3 separate regions of the Homo sapiens genome follow, and all the other regions are linked to region 2. Evidence: fine-mapped expression QTL. A gene starts in region 2. Each other region holds a variant in brackets. All regions are shown on one strand. Distances are between the middles of the regions.

The links. PIP is the estimated chance that this variant, and not a neighbour inherited with it, causes the effect.
Region 1: its variant is fine-mapped to the expression of MRPL15 in whole blood (INTERVAL, PIP above 0.99).
Region 3: its variant is fine-mapped to the expression of MRPL15 in monocytes after LPS (Fairfax 2014, PIP 0.95).

The regions. Positions count from the first base shown.
Region 1 is chr8:54,068,308-54,073,563 of GRCh38, reverse strand. All of the region lies in intron 2 of LYPLA1-TCEA1 (LYPLA1-TCEA1 readthrough), which reads left to right. All of the region lies in intron 2 of LYPLA1 (lysophospholipase 1), which reads left to right. It also overlaps the pseudogene CRIPTOP5. Among named protein-coding and RNA genes, the nearest start is that of LYPLA1, 31 kb to the left of the region's middle. RefSeq lists an enhancer at 2,248-2,347. The variant G/T (reference allele first, on the strand shown) is at 2,106.
Region 2 is chr8:54,133,209-54,138,350 of GRCh38, reverse strand. It overlaps MRPL15 (mitochondrial ribosomal protein L15), which reads right to left and starts at 3,110. Exons shown (of 5, transcript NM_014175.4): 1 at 2,960-3,110; 2 at 1,686-1,840; 3 at 918-1,083. The coding sequence starts at 3,067.
Region 3 is chr8:54,158,960-54,164,215 of GRCh38, reverse strand. No RefSeq gene overlaps it. Among named protein-coding and RNA genes, the nearest start is that of MRPL15, 26 kb to the right of the region's middle. The variant T/C (reference allele first, on the strand shown) is at 2,063.

The DNA.
Region 1 (5,256 bases), 65 kb after region 2:
GTAACTTTGTATAGAAAAGCAGATGCCAGCTGGCATAGAAGTGGCAGTGTAGATGCTGGTAGTTCTGGAGTCCTGGAAGCTATGAGATGCCATACATCACAAGGCCATCACAGCCAGGTAGATAAATGGCTGAGGAAAGCAGCGGAGCTGGCCGTGCCAGCATTTACAAATGGAACACTTCTTGGGCAGCCAGGTGTCATGGGGCACAGACCCACAGTTCTCTTTGCACACATCATGCTCACAGTTCCGTCCATAGAAGGAGAGGGGGCAGGCACAGAAGGACCCCAGCATGCAGGTTCCCCCATTCAGACAGCAGGTTCTGTTTAGTTCCTTACTGTCCTGTATCTCCCTGGGCGGCACAAGTTGGGAAGACCGAGGATGAATTGCAGGCTCCTCCTGGGGCTGAATGCTGTCATCTCTGAAGGCCAGGTCTCCCTGAGATGGACGCGCAAGTTCCTGATGGCCCAACCCTTAACGACCTTTTTTGACTTTTTGATGATAGCCATTCTGCCTGCTGTGAGATGGTATTTTGTTGTGGTTTTGATTTGCATTTCTCTAATCATTAATGATCTTGAGCATGTTTTCATATGCTTGTTGGCCACATGTATGTCTTTTTTTTTTTTTTTTTTGATTCAGTCTTGCTCTGTCGCCAAGCTGGAGTGTTCAAGCAATTCTCCTGCCTCAGCCTCCTGAGTAGCTGGGACTACAGGCACGCACCACCACGCCTGGCTAATTTTTTGTATTTTTAGTAGAGGTAGGGTTTCACTATGTTGGCTAGGTTGGTCTCGAACTCCTGACCTCAAGTGATCCGCCCGCCTCCGCTACCCAAAGTGCTGGGATTACAGGCATGAGCCACGACCACGCCCAGCCTGTCTTTTGAAAAGTGTCTGTTCATGTTTTTTGTCTACTTTTCAATGGGGTTGTTTGATTTTTTTTTTTTTAACAGTAAAGTGGAAGCAAGTTTATTAAGAAAGTAAAGGAATAAAAGAATGGCTACACCACAGAACAGCTAGGTGGTTTGTTTTTTACTTGTAAATTTAAGTTCCTTATAGATTCTGGATATTAGACCTTTGTTGGGTGCGCAGTTTGCATATATTTTCTTCCATCTGCAGGATGTTTGTTTACTCTGTTGATAGTTTCTTTTGCTGTGCAATAGCTCCTTAGTTTAATTAGATCTCATTTGTCAATTTTTGTTTTTGTTGCAGTTGCTTTTGGCGTCTTCACCATGAAATCTTAGACAAGTCCTATGTCTAAAATGGTATTTCCTAGGTTGTCTTTCGAGTTTTTATAGTTAGGGGTTTTACATTTAAGTCTTGAATCCATCTTGAGTTGATTTTTGTATGTGGTGTTAGGTGGGGGTCCAGTTTCTATCATCTGCATATGGTCACCCAGTTATCCTGGCACTTTTTATTGACTGGGGAGTCCTTTTTCCCATTGCTTGTTTTTGTCAGCTTTGTTGAGTATCAAATAGTTGTAGGTGTGTGACCTTACTTCTGTGCTGTCTATTCTGTTTGATTGGTCTATGTGTCTGTTTTTGTACCAGTACCATGCTGTTTTGGTTATTGTACCCCTGTAGCATAGTTTGAAGTCCAGTAACATGATGCCTCCAGCTTTGTTCTTTTTGCTTAGGATTGCCTTGTCTGTTTGGGCTCTTTTTTTGGTTCCATGTGAATTTTAAAACATTTTTTCCTAATTCCGTGAAGAATGTCATTGGTAGTTTGATAGGAATAGCATTGAATCTGTAGATTGCTTTGGGCAGTATGGCCATTTAACAGTATTGATTCTTCCTATCCATGAGCATGGAATGCATTTCCACTTGTTTGTGTCATCTCTGATTTCTTTGAGCAGCGTTTTGTAATTCTTGTTGTAGAGATCTTTCACCTCCCTGGTTAGCTGTATTCCTAGGTATTTTATTCTTTTTGTGGCAATTGTAACTCACACTTTTAAAATAAAATGTGTGCTTTTTGTACAAAAAAATCTCATATCGCTGTCATGGAGCTTCCTTGGTTCATCTTTTACTGCGTGTGTTCCATTGTGTGTGCACTCAGTCCTGTGTGTGCTTGTCCACGCCCCCACCCTGTATATATATGTACGTATATATAGAT[G/T]AGTCTTTTTTTAACTCTTGAGATAAACCTGCAAACATGTTCCTATCACCTCTAAATACTCTCATGTGTATTTCCCATGCACAAGGATACTTGTACATAACCAACATACAACACTCCAAATTAGGAGATGAGCATTGATTAAACACTATATCCAGTCCACAGACTCCATTGAAGTTTTGCCAGCTTTCTCAGCTGTGTCCGTTTCCTTTCTGGCCTGAGATCCTTTCCAGGAGTATGTGTTCATTTGAGCTGTCATGTCTTGAGTCTGAAACTGTTTATCAGTTCTTCTTTCATTTCCTTTGCAGTTTTAAAGCATATAGCCACAGCCTTCAGTTCTGCATATTCTGCAGAGTGACTCTTCAACTTGAGTCTGTCTAATGGTTCCTCATGACTGGGTCCAGTCATGCATTCTTCGTCTTTATTTTTGGTACCAGTTTTATTGACATATAATTCATATACCACACAATTCACTCATTTAAAGTGTGTAATTTGATGGTTTTAGATGTATTCACCGTAAGTTTTGCAACCATCACCACAGTCAATTTTAGAACATTTTCATTGCCTCAAAAAGAAACCCTATACTCTTTCATTTGTGTTCTATTGTAACTGGCTTCTTTCACTTAACATTGTTTTCAAGGCTCATCCGTGCTATAGCATGTCAGTACTTCCTTCTCATTGTTGAATCATACTCCGTTGTATGGCTGTGCCTCATTTTATTTTATTTTATTCTTTATTTGAGATGGAGTCTCGCTCTGCCGCCCAGGCTGGAGTACAGTGGTGTGATCTCAGCTCACTGCAACCTCCTCCTCCCGGGTTTGAGTGATTCTTCTACCTCAGTCTCCCCAGTCGCTGGTACTACAGGCATGCGCCATCAAGCCTGGCTAATTTTTGTATTTTTAGTAGAGACAGGTTTCACCATGTTGACCAGGCTGGTCTCGAACCCCTGACCTCAGGTGATCTGCCAGCCTTGGCCTCCCCAAAGTGCTGGGATTACCGTATGAGCCACCACGCCTGGCCTCATTTTGTTTATTCATCCATCATTTGATGGACATTTGGGTTGTTTGCACCTTGAAGTTGCGTAATACTGCTAAAAAAGAACATTTGTGTACAAGTTTTTTGTTGTTGTGTTTTTGTTTTTGTTTTGAGATGGAGTTTCACTCTTGTTGCCCAGGCTGGACTGCAGTGGCACGATCTCGGCTCACCGCAACTTCCGCCTCCCGGGTTCCAGCAATTCTCCTGCCTCAGCCTCCCGAGTAGCTGGGTTTACAGGCATGAGCCACCACATCTGTACTGGACATATTTTTTCACTATTCTTCGGTATAGACCTAGGAATAGAATTGCTGGATATGGTAACTTCATATTTATCCTTTTGAGAACCTAAAGGTTATCTAAAGTCGCTGCACCATTTACATTTCTACCAACAGTGTATGAGGGTTCTGATTTCTCACCATACCCTTTAACACTTGGCTATTATTTGTCATTTTTACGATAACCATTCCGGTAGGTATGAAGTGGTATCTCACAGTGGTTTTGGTTTGCATTTTCTAATGACTAATGATGTTGAGCATCTTTTCATGGTGTATTAACCATTCATTTGTCTGAGAAATGTCTATTCAAGTCTTTTGCCTATTTTTTTATTGAGATGTCTTTTTTGTTTAATTCGAGGTAAAATTCACATGACATAAAACTAACCCTTTTAATGTGAACAATTCATGACATTTAGTATATTCCTTTTTTTTTTTTTTAAACGAGACAGAGTCTCACTCTGTCGCCCAGGCTGGAGTGGAGTGGCACAATCTCAGCTCATTGCAATCTCTGCCTCCCAGGTTCAAATGATTCTCCAGCCTCAGCTTCTGAGTAGCTGGGACTACAGGTGCGCACCACGCCCAGCTAATTTTCATAGATTTAGTAGAGACGGGGTTTCACCATGTTGGCCAAGCAGGTCTTGAACTCCTGGACTCAAGGGATCTGCCCGCCTTGGCCTCCCAAAGTGCTGGGATTACAGGCATGAGCCACCATGCCTGGCCAAAGTTTTTTTTAAAGTATTTTTTCTTTTCCTTTTACTTTTAGTTGATACATAATTGTTCATATTTATGGGATACTGAGTGATATATTTTGATACATGTATACAACATGTAAGAATCAAATCAGGGTAATTAGCATATCCATCACCTCAAACATTTATCGTTTCTTTGCATTGTGAACATTCAACACCCTTTCTTCTAGCATTTTGAAAATATACACTGAATTGTAGTTAACCATATTCACTCAACAGTGCTACAGAACACCAGAATTTATTCCTTTCATCATTATATTGATAGCCATCCTAGTGAGTATGAAGTGATGTATCATTGGGGCTTTGATTTATGTTTCCTTAATGACTAATGATGTTCAGCATCTTTTCCTGTGCTTTTTGGCCATTTGTATATCTTCTTTGGACAAACATCTCATCAAGTCTTTTGCATATTTTTTAATTGGGTTGTCTTTTTGTTTGTGAGTTGCAAGTTTTTTTTATTATGGATACTAGACACTTTAATTAGATGTGATTTGCAAACATTTTTCCCACTATGTAAGTTGTCTTTTCATTTTCTTCATAGTGTCCTTTGAAACACAACAGTTAATTTTGATGATTTCTAATTTATCTATTTTTTTCTTGTCGGTTGTGCTTTTGATGTTATATCTAAGAAATTGCCAGATCTGAGGTCACAAAGATGTATGTGTGTTTTCTTCTAGTTTTATAGTTTTATCTCTTACATTTAGGTATTTGGTCAGTGTTTACATATGGTATGAGGTAGCAGTCCAACTTCTTTGTATTACATGTGGATATCCACTTGTCCCAGCTACTTTTGTTAAAAAGACTATTCCTTCCCTGTTGATTTGTTTCAGAAATAAGTTTGACAGTAAATGTGAGGTTTTATTTCTGGATTTTCGGTTGATTTATATGTCTGTCTGTACTCTAGTACTAGTCTTTCTGAATGTTACTTGGTAGGAATTTTTGAGATTAAGAAGTGTGAGTCCTCTAATTTTGTTCTTTTTCAAGATTTTTGTTGTTGTTGTTATTCTGGGTCTCTTGAGTTTCCATACAAATTTTAGATCGGGTTCTAATATGTGCAAAGTCAGGTGGTATTCTGTTAAAGATTGCATTGACTCC
Region 2 (5,142 bases):
AGTGAGACTCCATCTCTATTTAAAAAAAAAAAAAAAAAAAAAAAAAAAAGATCTTCCTGATATGTTGACATTCAAGCAGAGAACCAAAAGAAGGGGGCGCCGTGGGCGGTGGCTCACGCCTGTAATCCCAGCACTTTGGGAGGCCAAGGTGGGTGGATCACGAGGTCAGGTGTTCAAGACCAGCTTGGCCAATATGGCGAAACTCCATCTCTACTAAAAATATAAAAAATTAGCCGGGTGTGGTGGCGCACGACTATAGTCCCAGCTACTCAGGAGGCTGAGGCAGGAGAATTTCTTGAACCCAGGAGGCAGAGGTTGCAGTGAGCCGAGATCGTGCCACTGCACTCCAGCCTGGGCAACAGAGCGAGACTCCATCTCAAAAACAAAAACAAAAAAAAAAGAAGGCAAGCTTTACAGATATGCAGAAGAGCAGCATTCCAGGACCAAGGGACAGAGCCCTGCCATGATAGTATGACAGCTTTCCAAAACCACAGCTATCACCACTACATAACAGTTATAAACACAAATGGGCTAAAAATAAAGGGGGTAGAGTACTGATTATCTGGAAATCAAAAATATCTCCTACGGGCCAGGCATGGTGGCTCACACCTGTAATTCCAGCACTTTGGGAGGCCGAGGTGAGCAGATCACTTAAGGTCAGGAGTTCAAGATCAGCCTGGCCAACATAGTGAAACCCTGTCTCTACTAAAAACAAATAAAATTAGCTGGGCATGGTGGTGGGTGCCTGTAATCCCAGCTATTCAGGAGGCTGAGGCAGGAGAATCACTTGAACTTGTGAGGTGGAGGTTGCAGGAGCCGAGATTGCGCCACTGTACTCCAGCTCAGGCAACAGGGCAAGACTCTGTCTAAAAAAAAAATCCTCCTATATAACACCAAAAGATCTAATCAAGACTTACCTCCTCAACCAGCTGGACACCATAATCCCTTTTAAGTGGCTGGATGGTCACACCTCTCCCATTGACAAGCTGGGTTAAGTCAATAGGTTGACTAGGATCAACACGACCCAAATCAATAAGATACTGCAGTCTATTGAGACTCAAAGGCTTATACTGGCGTCTGAAACTGTAAAACAAGAATGTAAGAGTTGGAAAACTCTCATCTTCCTGTAACTTCTCGAAATCAACTCAAAGCTTTGTCTTGTGTTTTCCTCCACCAATTTTATTTAACTAAACAAAACCCTCTTGAGTGTAACACAAACATGTAATACTGCTTGATTTTGGGTAATGAAAACAAACCTGTACCACCTTTGTTCCACTAAAAATTATTTCCCTCTCTAAGCATTTACTTCACTTATTTACACAAATAAATCTGTGGAAAATTTAACTTACTATGGAGCTCAAAGTAATAATGGTAGTTATCATTTATTAGGTGACTACAGTGGGCCAGATTTTTATGTATACTGTCTATTATTGCTCACTCTTTTAATAACCATTAGAGCTGGCATTAGAATCTCCATTTTGCAGGTCTAAGTGCAGTGTCTGGGCCTCTTTTCCTTTTAATAATCCAGGCAAGATTTCATTACCAAAAAATGGTTCAGGGGAACAGTAGCAAAAGTTTGCTTCAAAGTGAATTTACAATTTCCACCAAAATTTCTACCAAACTATTTTTAGGTGCTTTTTAATGGAAATTGGGGACCTGTACTTTAAAAAGCAAAGCAACCTTACCTATGTCCTTCGTTAAACCCGTATTTTGGGATTCGGATGTAAAATGGAGTCTGGCCTCCCTCAAAGCCCAAGCGGGGCCGGGTTCCTCTTTGCCTTTCTCCTTTATGGCCTCTGCCACATTTTCTACCTCTTCTCCGACCTCTTGGTCTTCTCTCCTGCAAGGAAAAAAAAGAATTTTATGAATTTCAGATGCATTTCTAAAAACTGCATTTCAGCTCTTCACTTTTTGTTATGCTGTTCATTCATCCAGCCCACCAGTGCTAGCTAACACTATTGTGTCAAGCATGTCCTAGTTGCTCAAAGCTCCACACACTCTGTTAGCATCTTTGCCTCTAAAGACATAGCTAATTCTTGTAACCAAAGTCCAAGTGTGTTTCAAAAGCAAAAAGTAAAGGTTAGGATGGGGATAAGGTTTTTATAATAGGTTGAAACCGAAAAAAATCCTAGAATTAAATATTCACAACATTTTAAATGATAGGCAAGAATTTATTCTGAAATTAATTGTAAATATGCAAATGTTATTCATAAACCTGTAATTTTATTTGAAAACTGATCTGTTGAAGAAAATCTTTTCCTTAATTTCCTGTCATTTCACGAAAGCAATGAACTGACTGTTAAAATGACAGTACATTGTCAACTAACAGCTTTTCTAGCTCTATTTAGTCAACTGCAGAAGGGACAGCTGCAATTCAGATCTTTCCAATGAACATAAAGATACACCGGGAAAACATTTCATTTTAAATCCAATTTTGAATGACACAAAGACTTTGTAGTTTCAGCGAGTCGGCTTCTCCGCCTGGTATCTTTACACTTGTAAACATAACCTTATTAAGAACTGGGTGCGGCCGGGGGCGGTGGCTCACGCCTGTAATCCCAGCACTTTGGGAGGCCGAGGCAGGCGGATCGCGAGCTCAGGAGTTCAAAACCAGCCTGGCCAACACGGTGAAACCACGTCTCTACTAAAAATACAAAAATTAGCCGGGCGTGATGGCGGGCGCCTGTAATCCCAGCTAATCGGGAGGCTGAGGCAGGAGAATTGCTTCTGGGCGACAGAGCAAGCCTCCGTCTCGGAAAAAAAAAAAAAAAAAAAAAAAAGAACTGGGTGCACGTGGAAAGATTCCCCTCTGGGCAGTAAGGGAGAACAGGCATGAGGCAATCCTATTTTCATCCCAACACTCTCCTAGAAAGGGCAGTTCTCCTAATGACAGGGAGAGAAGGGCCGCTTTCATCGCCCGGGTCCCCAGCGCTTCCCCGCACCGCCACCACCCATTTACCGGTTTCTTGGAGCCGGGATTCGGCTTTAAGTTGGCCAGGCTCACACGCGGCAGGCCCCGGAGTAGGTCCAGGGCCCGGGCCCCACCGCCCTGCAAGGGACCGGCCATAACCCGCAGATCCAAGAACTTTCAAGGGCGCCCTGAGCTGCTCGGAGGCCACGTGGTCTCGGGGGCTGCTTTGTGGCCGTGGCCCCGCCCCTGTCGCGCTGCAGCCGCGCGCGCAAGCCCGGGAGTCGGGCAGAGGCGTGGGAGTCTGCAACCTTGTCTCGGTTGTCCTTTTAGTTGTTTGGGGATGTGATCTTATTTTCCGAGATCCTGCTTTGTCCTCGGGGTCCCTTTTAATATTCTGAACGTAAAACCTTCTCTTTCGCCAAACGAGAGCATGCACTAAAAACACTGCGTTAAATAAAGGATCTTTTTTGAGTCAGTGTTGGGCCTTGCCTGTTTGTCTAGGCCGTGTCTTCTCTGAGGTCAATGCAGAACCCAGAGTAAAGCAAAGTGAGCTGTCAATTATTAGCTTTTGAGCTTGCGTAATTATACACCGTGAGGTACGAAAATAAAACTGAGTGCACCTATCAAAATGCCTGGCTAATAACCAATCTTTGAATAAGACTCAAAGTGTGAACTCTCATCCGTGTGCATCTGTATTGTTTTGAGTGAATCGCAGTTAGTAACCACCTATTGTTAATGACTGGCGCCATACTGAATGCCTGGTGTATGCCAGACGCTGTATTAAATAAGCCTTACTCGATTTACAGCCATTCTAGAGGTAAATGGTGTTACTACATTTTACAGTTACAACAGGGAAGGCTTAGCAAGGTCCGATAGCTTGACCAACTTCTTGCAACAAGCGGCAGAGCCAGGATTCAAACGTACACTGCTTCCTACTATAAAAGTAGTATTTTTAGAATGTAAAATTGAGTATCTGCATCACAAAATACGAACATTATTACTCGAAAAATACCAGCTCTTCTTTTTTCTCTCAAGTGACTTAAATATAGAAAAGACTGTTCCTTTCTTTTTCTTTCTTTTAGTAGTGGTTTGACATTTCACTTGCTGGGGAGTTTTTTCTGCTAGCTCTAACTAGTAATCACAAATAATGAAGGTGAGACAATTTTTGGAGGGCGTCTGTCTCTAGGTATAACTGCGTCTTTTTAAAGTTCCTTTAAATCAAGTGTAAAATAACTACATAAAGAAAAAGTTGTATTCATTCCTTCAAGTACTATTTATAAGTAAGACACTGAACTTGTTGGAAATACACATGGATGAACTCAAATAGGATTTCATTCCCAAGTTGTTTGAAATCTAGTAGGGAACAGTTTCCAAAAGTGAATTATTATTATTATTATTTTGAGACAGAGTCTCGCTCTGTTGCTTAGGCTAGAGTGCAATGGTTCAATCTCAGCTCACTGCAACCTCTGCCTCTCTGGTTCAAGCAATTCTTCCGCCTCCGCCTCCTGAGTAGCTGGGATTACAGGCGTTCACCAGCACGCCCCGCTAATTTTTTTTTGTATGTTTAGTAGAGACGGGTTTTCGCCATGTTGGCCAGGCTGGTCTCCAACTCCTGGCCTCAGGTGATCCCCCTGCCTCGGCCTCCCAAAGTGCTGGGATTACAGGCGTGAGCCACGGCGCCTGGCCCGTGAATGTTTTTTAAAAGTTAAAGATAAAAGTAGGCCTCTTGTAGACTAATTAGCAAAAACAAAATATGTGAGTTCGATAAAATGATATGATGGTAAAGTCTAGACTCTATTTAGAAGCACAGAAGAAATAGAATGGGGTGTGGGGGGCAATAGAACCTATTTTCTGCCTTTAATGATTTTTGGTTTGTTTGTTTGAAATGGAATCTCACTCTGTCGCCCAGGCTGGAGTGCAGTAGCGCCATCTCGGCTCACTGCAGGCTCCTCACCCAGGTTCAAGCGATTCTCCTGCCTCAGCCTCCCCAGTAGCTGAGATTACAGGCATGCACCACAACGTACAGCTTTTTTAGTTTGTTTGTTTGGTTGGTTTTTTAGTAGAGACTGGGTTTCACCACGTTGGCCAGGCTTGTCTGAAACTCCTAACCTCAAATGATCCACCTGCCTTGGCCTCCCAAAGTGCTGGGATTACAGGTGTGAGCCACTGAGTCCAGCCTGCCTTTAGTGATTTTTAATTCAGTAGTTTTCATTGTGTTTTTATTAAACTTT
Region 3 (5,256 bases), 26 kb before region 2:
AAAAATAAAATAAAATAATAAAAATAAAGAGAACACTGTGAAAAATTGTGTGCCAACCAATTAGATAACCTAGTTGAAATGGATAAATTACTTGACAGACACAAACTACAAAAACAGACTCAAGAAGAGTAGAAAATCACAGAAAAAAAGAGAAATAAAAAAGAATAGAAAATCTGAAAAGATGTATAACAAGAGAATTATTAATCAAAAACTTCCCACAAAGAATAGCCCAGGGTCAGATGACTTCACTGGTGAATTCTACCAAATATTTAAAGAATTAATGCCAATTCTTCAAAAATTCTTCAAAAAAAAAAAGAGGAGGAAACACTTCGAAATCATTCTATTTGCCTAGTATAACACTGATACCAAAGACATCACAAAAAACTACAAATATATTTTAAATGATACATGCAAAACTCAACAAAATACAAGCAATCCAAATTCAGCAACATATAAAAGAGGATTATATACTATGACCAAGTGGAATTTATCCCAGGTATACAAGGTTGGTTTAATATCTGAAAATCTATCAATGTAATACACCAAATTAATAGAATAAAAGACAAAAACACATACTGATAAGAGATAGCCCATGTTCATGGATTAGACGACTTTTTTTTTTGAGACATGGTCTCACTTTGTCACTCAAGGTGGAGTACAGTGGCACAATCATGGCTCACTGCAGCCTCAACCTCCAGGGCTCAAGGGATTCACCTTAGCCTCTGCCTGTCCCTCAGGTACCTGAGACTATAGGCATGTTCCACCAGCTAATTTTTTATTTTTTACTTTTTTGTAAAGATGGAGTTTCACTATGTTGCCTAGGCTGGTCCCAAACCCCTGGGCTTAAGTGATCCTCCCACTTTGGTCTCCCAAAGTGCTGGAATTACAGAAGTGAGCCACCATGTCTGGCTAGAAGACTTAGTATTGTTAAAATAGCCATATTCTCTGAATTGATCTACAAATTTAAAGCTTGCATTTATCAAAATGCAAGCTGCCATTTTTGCAGAAATTGGCAAGGTGATTCTCAAATTTGTATGGAAATTCAAGGGGCCCAGAGGAGTCAAAACCATCTTGAAAAAGAAGAATAAGGCTAGGATTTCTTATTTTCAAAACTTACTACAAAACTACAGTAATCAAGACTGTATAAGACTTTATGTATCAAGTGTATAAAGTTAGACATATATAGCTCAATGGCACTTATGGCCAACTGATTTTCTACAAAGATACAAGACAATTCAATGGGAACAGAATATTTCTTTTCAGTAAATGTTGCTGGGACAACTTGATACCACATGCAAAAGAATAAAGTTGGACTCTTGCCTCACATCACATACAAACATTAACTCAAAAGTATTAAATGCTCAAATGAAAAGCTAAAGCTAGAAAACAGAGAATTTTAAGACCTAGGAGTAAATCTGCATGACTTAGCATTAGGTAATCATAACTTAGATGTGACAACAAAACCACAGGCAAAAAAAAAAAAGAAAAAATAGATAATTTAGACTTCATTGAAATTAAAAACTTTTGTTTATTAAAAGACACTGTCAAGAAAGTGAAAAGACAATACACAGAATGAGAGAAAATATTTGCAAATAATATATATAATAAGGATCTAGTATCCAGAATACATAAATATTATTATAATTCAATAAAAAGACAAATGGTACCATTTTAAAATAGGCAAAGGACCGGAAAAGACATTTATCCAAAGAAAACATACAAGTGGCAAATAAGTTCATGAAAGTGATTATCAATACCGTTAATTACTAGGGAAATGCAAATCAAAACCACAATGAAATACCACTCCACACCCACTAGAAAGGCTACAATCAAAAAGACAGACAATAATAAATCTTGGCAAAGATATGGAAAAATTGGAAGCTTCATGAGCGGCTGGCAGGAATGTAAAATGGTGCAGCCACTGTGGAGAACAGTTTGGCTGTTCCTCAAAAAGTTAAACATGGAATTACCATGTGTATTAGTCCGTTTTCACACTGCTGATAAAGACATACCTGAGACTGGGAAGAAAAAGAGGTTTAATTGGACTTACAGTTCCACATGG[T/C]TGGGGAGGCCTCAGAATTATGGTGGGAGGCAAAAGGCACTTCTTGCGTGGCAAGGGGCAAGAGAAAAATGAGGAAGAAGCAAAAGCGGAAACCCCTGATAAACCCGTCAGATCTTGTGAGACTTATTCACCACCACGAGAATAGCATGGGAAAGACCGGCCCCCATGATTCAATTACCTCCCTCTGGTGCCCTCCCACAATACGTGGGAATTCTGGGAGATACAATTCAAATTGAGATTTTGGTGGGGACACCGCCAAACCATATCATTCCACCCTTGGCCCCTCCAAATCTTATGTCCTCACATTTCAAAACCAATCATACCTTCCCAACAGTCCCCCAAAGTCTTATTTCAGCATTAACCCGAAAGTCCACAGCCCAAAGTCTCATCTGAGACAAGGCAAGTCCCTTCCGCCTATGAGCCTGTAAAATCAGAAGCAAGCTAGTTACTTCCTAGATACAATGGGGGTACAGGTATTGGGTAAATACAGCCATTCCAAATGGGAGAAATGGGCCAAAACAAAGGGGTTACAGGGCCCATGCAAGTCTGAAATCCAGCAGGGCAGTCACATTTTAAAGCTCCAAAATGATCTCCTTTGACTCCAGGTCTCGCATCCAGGTCACGCTGATGCAAGAGGTGGGTTCCCATGGTCTTGGACAGCTCCCTCCCTGTGGCTTTGCAGGGTACAGCCTCCCTCCTGGCTGCCTTCATGGGCTGGCATTGAGTACCTGCATCTTTTCCAGGCACATGGTGCAAGCTGTTGGTGGATCTACCATTCTGGGGTCTGGAGGACGGTGGCTGTCTTCTCACAGTTCCACTAGGCAGTGCCCCAGTATGGACTCTCTGTCGGGGCTCCGATCCCACATTTTCCTTCTGCACTGCTCCAGCAGAGGTTCTCCATAAGGGCCCCACTCCTGCAGCAAACTTTTGCCTGGGCATCCAGGCATTTCCAAACATCTTCTGAAATCTAGGCAGAGGTTCCCAAACCTCAGTTCTTGACTTCTGTGCACCTGTAGGCTCAACACCACGTGGAAGCTGCCAAGGCTTAGAGCTTCCACCCTCTGAAGCCACAGCCCGAGCTCTACGTTGGCCCCTTTCAGTCACAGCTGGAGCGACTGGGACACAGGGCACCAAGTCCCTAGGCTGCACAAAGCACGGGGATGCTGGGCCTGGCCCACGAAACCTCTTTTTCCTCCTGGCCTCCAGCCTGTGATGGGAGGGGCTGCCATGAAGGTCTCTGACATGGCCCGGAGACATTTTCCCCATGGTCTTGGAGATTAACATTAGACTCCTTGCTACATATGCAAATTTCTGCAGCTGGCTTGAATTTATCCTCAAAAAATGGGTTTTTCTTTTCTACTTCATCATCAGGCTGCAAATTTTCTGAACTTTTATGTTCTGTTTCCCTTTTAAAATGGAATGCTTTTAACAGTACCCAAGGTATCTTTTGAATGCTTTGCTGCTTAGAAATTTCTTCTGCCTGATACCCTAAATTATCTCTTTCAAGTTCAAAGTTCCACAATTCTCTCAGGCAGGGGCAAAATGCTGCCAGTCTCTTTGCTAAAACATAACAAGAGTCACCTTTGCTCCAGTTCCCAACAAGTTCCTCATCTCCATGAGACAACCTCAGCCCGGACTTTATTGTTCATATCACTATCAGCATTTTTGTCAAAGCCATTCAACAAGTCTCTAGGAGGTTCCAAACTTTCCCACATTTTCCTATCCTCTTTTGAACTCTCCAAACTGTTCCAATCTCTCCCTGTTACCCAGTTCCAAGGTCACTTCCACGTTTTCAGGTATCTTTTCAGCAACGCCCCACTCTACTCGTACCAATTTACTATATTAGTCCATTTTCACGCTGCTAATAAAGACATACCCAAGACTGAGAAGAAAAACAGGTTTAATTGGACTTAATAGTTCCACATGGCTGGGGAGGCCGCAGAATCATGGCAGGAGGTGAAAGGCACTTTTTACATGGCAGCCACAAGAGAAAAATGAGGAAGAAACAAAAGCGGAAACCCCTGATAAACCCATCAGATCGTGTGAGACTTATTCACTATAATGAGAATATCGTGGGAAAGACTGGTCCCCATGATTCAATTACCTCCCCCTAGGTTCCTCCCACAATGCATGGGAATTCTGGGAGATAAAATTCAAGTTGAGATTTTGGTGGGGACACAGCCAAACCATATCACCATGTAATTCCATTCCCCAGCATATACCCTAGATAACTGAAACCGGGGACTCATTTCTTGCACTCTAATGTGCACAGCAGCTTTATTCACAATAACTCAAAGGTAGAAACAGGCCAAATGTTCATCAACAAATGAGTGGATAAACAGTTGTCATATATACATGCAATGGAATATTATTTAGCCATCAAAAGGAATGAAGTACTGGTTCATGCTACAACATTGGATGAACCTTGAAAATATATTAAGTGAAGGAAGCCAGACACAAAAGACCACATAGTGTATGATTTCATTTACATAACATATCCAAAATAGATAATTCTGTAGAGATAGAAAGCAGATTAATAGGCTGGGAGTGGTGGCTCATGCCTGTAATCCTAGCACTTTGGGAGGCTGAGGCGGGTGGATCATCTGAGGTCAGGAGTTCGAGACCAAATTGGCCAACATGGTGAAACCCCATCTTTACTAATAATACAAAAATTAGCTGGGCGTGGTGGCAGGCACCTGTAATCCCAGCTACTTGGGAGGCTGAGGCAGGAGGCAGGAGAATTGCTTGAACCCAGGAGGCAGAGGTTGCGGCGAGCTGAGATCACGCCATTGCACTCCAGCCTGGGTGACAAGAGTGAAACTCCGTCTCCAAAAAAAAAAAAAAAGAGAAAGAAAGCAGATTAGTAGTTCCCAGGGGCTGGAGGCAGGGAGAGATGAATACAGACTGCTTAATGGCTATTAGTTTCCTTTTGGTGTGATGAAATGCTTTGGAACTAGATGGAGGAGGTGGTTGCACAACACTGAGAATGTATGACATTCTGCTGAATTGTTTTCAGTTGTCAACTTTATGGTATATGAATTTCACCCCAAGGTTTAAAAAACTTCTGTGAAGATGAAATGTCTTTTACCTTGTTTCCTACAGCCTTTCTTTGCTTTTTTGTTCCAAAAAGGTCTTTGAGATCTCTGTAACGCAATGCTTCCTTCAGGCACAGCATCCTGATGCACGCTGCTCCC